Regions from separate parts of the Homo sapiens genome. Here region 1 is linked to region 2. Evidence: fine-mapped expression QTL. A gene starts in region 2. The other region holds a variant in brackets. All regions are shown on one strand. Distances are from middle to middle. Region 1 has its middle 6.2 kb from the start of MIR4645. Region 2 holds the start of SERPINB9 (serpin family B member 9).

Region 1 (2,743 bases), 43 kb before region 2:
CAGGTTAGGTTCTGGGGAGATGAGAAAGGATTAAGCAGTGTCCCAGCCTCCAAGGAGATCATGTGACTCCACTGATCATAAATGATGGCCCTGGAAAAAGTTCCAACTCCTCTTCAGTATGGCTCCAGCTGAATGGCTCTGTCCCCTGCCCCTTCTCTGTCTGGGCTGGTCCCTCTGGTAACTGTCTTATGGGTCTTCTCCCTCCACACCGTCGCTCATGCAGGCCCTTCAGTGTAGTACAGCCTCACAGATGCTCAGCTCAGCAGCCCTTTGCTTGAGCTTTTGGGTTTAACCTCCATCCTCTTCCTGTTGTCTGTATCTCTGCGTCATCAAACATCTAAATTTAAGTCTCCTATCTGTGTGATCTTAGACAAGTGTCTAGTGTCAAGTGTCTAGTGGACAAAGGTTTCTAAACCTTTGTCCTCCATTCCTCATTTGTGAAAGGAAGGTAATGGCTTCCGCTTTGTCCATGGCTTAGAGTTGTTCTAAAAATCAAATAACATGATAAATAAATTTAAAAAAAAACAAGTAAGATAACAAGGGCTGGTCCAGATGTGGAGGAAGGGAACACCTGCACACTGTTGCTGGGAATTTAAATTAGTACAAGCATTCAGGGAAACAGTATGGAAGTCCCGCAAAAAATTAAAAATAGAATTACCGTATGATCCAGCAATTTCACTACTGGGTATATCTCCAAAGGAAATGAAATCCTTACCTTGAAGTGGTATCTACACTCCCATGTTCATTGGAGCACTATTCACAATGGCCAAGATATGAAAACAAGCCAAGTGTCTGTCCATGAATGAATGGCTACAGAAAGTGTGGTATACATATATCTGGTGGAATATTATCCAATCTTAAAAAAAAATTGTCATTTTCGACATGGATGAACTTAGAAAACATTATGCTAAGTGAAATAAACCAGGCCCAGGCACAGAAAGACAAATACTGAATGATTTCATTGATATCTGGAATCTAAACTAGAACTCATGAAAGCAGAGAGTAGAAAGCGGCTTGCCTGGGGCTGGGGAACACGGGAATGGGGAGACGTTGGTCAAAGTGGGAGGTGACAGCGTGCTGGCAGTTCTCAGAGCCCTCTCTTGCTCTCGGCACCTCCTCTGCCTGGGATCCCACTTTGGTGGCATTTGAGGAGCCCTTCGGCCCCCCCACTGCACTGTGGGAGCCCCTTTCTGGGCTGGCCAAGGCTGGAGCCCACTCCCTCAGCTTGCAGGGAGGTGTGGAGGGAGAGGCACGAGCGGGAACCGGGGCTGCGTGCAGCGCTTGCTGGCCAGCTGGAGTTCCGGGTGGACGTGGGCTTGGCGGGCCGCGCACTCGGAGCAGCCGGCCCTGCTGGCCCCGGGCAATGGGGGACTTAGCACCCGGGCCAGCGGCTGCGGAGG[G/A]TGTACTGGGTCCCGCAGCAGTGCCAGCCCACCGGCGCTGCGCTCGATTTCTCGCCGGGCCTTAGCTGCCTTCCCGCGGGGCAGGGCTCGGGACCTGCAGCCCGCCATGCCTGAGCCTCCCACCCACTCCATGGGCTCCTGTACGGCCCGAGCCTCCCCGACAAGCACCACCCCCTGCTCCACAGCGCCCAGTCCCATCGACCACCCAAGGGCTGAGGAATGCGAGCGCACGGTGCGGGACTGGCAGGCAGCTCCACCTGCACCCCCAGTGTGGGGTCCACTGGGTGAAGCCAACTGGGCTCCTGAGTCTGGTGGGGATGTGGAGAGTCTTTATATCTAGCTCAGGGATTGTAAACACACCAATCAGCACCCTGTGTCTAGCTCAAGGTTTGTGAGTGCACCAATCGACACTCTGCATCTAGCTGCTCTGGTGGGGCCTTGGAGAACCTTTATGTCTAGCTCAGGGATTGTAAATACACCAATCAGCACCCTGTGTTTAGCTCAAGGTTTGTGAATGCACCAATCAACACTCTGTATCTAGCTGCTCTGGTGGGGATGTGGAGAACCTTTATGTCTAGCTCAGGGATTGTAAATACACCAGTCGGCACTCTGTATCTAGCTCAAGGTTTGTAAACACACCAATTAGCACCCTGTGTTTAACTCAAGGTTTGTGAATGCACCAATTGACACTCTGTATCTAGCTGCTCTGGTGGGGCCTTGGAGAACCTGTGTGTCCAAACTCTGTATCTAACTAATCTGATGGGGACGTGGAGAACCTTTGTATCTAGCTCAGGGATTGTAAACGCACCAATCAGCGCCCTGACAAAACAGGCCACTAGGCTCTACCAATCAGCAGGATGTGGGTGGGGCCAGATAAGAGAATGAAAGCAGGCTGCCCGAGCCAGCATTGACAACCTGCTCAGATCTCCTTCCAGACTGTGGCAGCTTTTTCTTCTTCTTCTTCTTCTTCTTCTTTCTCTTTTCTTTTCTTTTCTTTTCTTCCCCCTTCTCCTTCTCTTCTTCTCTCTTTCCTCTCCCTTCCTCCCCCTCCCTTCCTCTTTTCTCTCGCTTTGCAATAAATCTTACTGTTGCTCGTTTTGGGTCTACACTGCTTTTGTGAGCTGTAACAGTCACGGTGAAGATCTGCAACTTCACTCCTAAGCACAGTGAAACCATGAGGCCACCAGGAGTGAATTAACAACTCCAGATGCGTTGCCTTAAGAACTGTAACATTCACTACGAAGGTCTGCAGCTTGCCTCCTGAGCCAGCAAGACCGTGAACCCACCAGAAAAAAAAAACTCCAAATACATCTGAACATCAATAAAGGACAGACTCCAGATGT
Region 2 (3,012 bases):
TGGGTCTCTTGGCCACAGGCCTGAAACCAAATGAACCCCCACCCCCAGGCTGCAGTTCCCAGTGCACTTGGAAATGAGACCCTGACTCCTCCAGGTGAGCCTGGGAGACCTCCCTGACTCCTTTCCATCTCCCCCTCCTCCCCCACACCCATCCCCAAGGCCTGCCCTCTACGCCCACATTTCTTCCCACTTCGGATTCTGTGCCTGGTCTAATGCCCAGGCCCCCTCCCGAGCCTCTGGTCTCCCTAGAGCCACTCCCCACTGTCGGGACACCTCATCTGTGCTCCCCAAAACGCCACGCAAAGCGCTGGAGAGCCTTGGACAATGAACACAACCCACTCCCCCAGCCACCCCCACGCCACAGCCACACGGCACCTCAGAAAGCGGTGTCTTAATCCTCTTGTCCTTCCTCCTAAATCTCCCAGGGGCCCTTAGGCCCCTCAAAGGTGGCCGCTCAAAGCCACCTTGTTAAAACGGTGTCTTACCCACCTGCCCCCTCCCTTGATCCAGACTCACTGAGGTCACAGCCTCCACCTCTGGCCATCCTGAACCCCTCCCAAAGTCAACTCTTCACAAACACTGTTGGTCCCCCTTAGAAGGCCCCATGTCCATCACGGCATTAATTCCACTCACCCTCAAACACCGCGGCCCGGAGGCTCTGATTCCCACCCTGGAGGAGGTTCTCTTGACCCCGCCGGCGCGACCCTCCCCAGCACGACCCTTCCTCCCGAAGGTGATTCCTCATCTTGCTGGTGGTCCCCACAGACCGCAGGCTCTGCAGGCGAGCGCTGAGCCTGGCTCTGCAGATTCTCAGGACCCCATTCGTTTAGCTGAATTATTGAAAGAATTAAGATGGATAAGAGTGCTCAGATTTGAAACTCCGAGACTGGTGGCTTTATTTTTTTGTTGTTGTTGGTGGTGGTTTTTTTGTGTTTTTCTTTTTTTTGTTTTGAGACGAAGTCTCACTCTGTCTGCCAGGCTGGAGTGCAGTGGCGCAATCCCAGCTCACTGCAACCTCTGCCTCCCGAGTTGAAGTGATTTTCCTGCCTCAGCACATAGCTGACATTATTACAGGCGTGGGCCACCATGCCCGGCTAATTTCTGTATTTTTAGTAGAGACCGGTTTTCACCACGTTTGCCAGACTGGTCTCGAACTCCTGATCTCCAAGGATCCGACCGCCTTGGCCTCCCAAAGTGCTGGGATTACAGGCGTGAGCCACTGCGCCCGGCCGAGACTGGTGACTGTAAAGGACAGTGAAGAAGCAGGACAGACGTCATCCTGCGGATCCCAGAGCAGAGAAGAGCAGTGAGAACACAGGGCCGGCAGGTGGGGAGGAGGCTGCAGGGGAGGGCTTCGGCCAGGGAAGGGCAGCGAGGAGACATCCGGGAGGGAGGCGTCCGCGGTGGCTGTGGGCCGCCAAGGCGGAGACCGGCTGCCGCTCCCAGGCACCCCCCAGAGACCGTTGCTGACCCCACCGAGAAGGCACCGCCTCCCCGGGGCTCTTGGCTGAGCGACCTCTCCTGTCCTCCGGTCCCATCACTCGGTGGCAGCCGGTGGACCTGAAGCTCGCCACTCCCGTCCCCTACCCCAGCCGTGCGCGGGGACGCCCTCACCTGCCACCTAGTCCAGCGCTGCCGCCGTCTCCGTGCCGCGCTCCGAGCCTGGACGCCGACCCCCGAGGCGCAGGACCCGGCCCTGCTGCTGCGCTCGCCGCGGACTCCCGCTAGGGCCTCTGCAGGCACCGCTTTTATACCGCAGGGTCGGGCGCCTCCCACGCTTTCTGCGTTTAGGCGGAGCCTGGCGGGACCAGCGGGGGCGCCGCGCGTGGTGGCCGAGGTCAGAGCTGGGAGCAGGGTCAGGTCAGGGTCCCCCCAGTCCGCCCCGCCCGGGGCGATGTCCGCCAATGCTCCCGCCAGCCTGAGGCCGGCCAGGTTCCCAAGGCGCGCGCTCGGCCTCACCCACCCCCGGCGCCAGGGCCTCTTCAGGACCGGGTTCAGAACCTGACAGCCCAGAGAAGTAGGTTGGGAGCCTGCGGCGTCCAGGGCCTCCGCGCGAAGAAACAAGGCGTCTGCGGGAAAGGAGACGGAGCCTGGAACCCTGGGCTTTTGTACTTAAGGAAGCGAAGGTCGGGTGACAGCCAAGCTCCGTGTTCCAGTGGGAAGGTCCCATGGGTCTGTGTTCCACGCCTCTTGTCATGAATATGGGGGATTCACTTAGAACCAAAGCATTTGTTCCAGGTCCCACCACTAACTAGTACTAGTCCTGGGCCCAGAACCAGGCGTCCTCACTCCTAGTACCCAAGCCCTTCTCTAGCCACAGGTGTTTGGGCTGCGGTGTGGTGTAAGCAGCCCCATTTTCCCGCAAAGTGATGGGAAGAGACACTGAGTCACACGGGCTCAGGACACTCCTTGTGTCCTCTATCAGGGGGTCCAGAGGCAGGGACTCGGGGGAGTTGATGCAGCAGTTCGTGATGTCATCAGATATCCCCCCACCCCCTTCCATCTCAGGCTGGACTCAATTGGAAGCATTTCATGTTGGCACGGTGACGTCCAGAGGAAGGGAACAGACAAATGGCTCTCTCTGGAGCACGGAGCGTCGCCCAGAAGCCGTGCCCTCCTGTTTCAAATTGACCAGAATTAGAGCTTTCTCCTGAGGGCCTGAATTAGGGAGAAGCAAGGCAGGTGCCTAAGGCACAAAATTTCAGGAGGGCCACACGCATAGGTGCCAACCCTGCATTTGCGCGGCCCTGAGAATCAGAGCCTCCTTCAATTTGACACCCTAGGTGCCTAGCTTGTTTTTAAAAATAAAACCTTTATTAAAAGACAATTCACGGACCATAATATGCATCCTTTTAAAGCATACAATTCAATAGTTCTTGGTATATTGACAAAGCTGTCCAACTCTCACCACTATCTAACTCCAGAAGGTTTTCATCACCCTAAAAGGAACTGTGATACCCATTAGCAATTATTCTCCATTTCCTCCTTCCCACAACCCCTGGCTTCTGGGAG

What was found. PIP is the estimated chance that this variant, and not a neighbour inherited with it, causes the effect.
Region 1: its variant is the best candidate, but not a certain one, in a credible set for the expression of SERPINB9 in whole blood (INTERVAL, PIP 0.58).

What each region holds. Positions count from the first base shown.
Region 1 is chr6:2,858,902-2,861,644 of GRCh38, forward strand. It overlaps the pseudogene SERPINB9P1. Among named protein-coding and RNA genes, the nearest start is that of MIR4645, 6.2 kb to the left of the region's middle. RefSeq lists an enhancer at 1-257. The variant G/A (reference allele first, on the strand shown) is at 1,401.
Region 2 is chr6:2,901,587-2,904,598 of GRCh38, forward strand. SERPINB9 (serpin family B member 9) reads right to left here and starts at 1,723. Exons shown (of 7, transcript NM_004155.6): 1 at 1,615-1,723. RefSeq lists an enhancer at 1,187-1,688 and silencers at 1,399-1,448, 1,689-1,768, 1,869-1,918.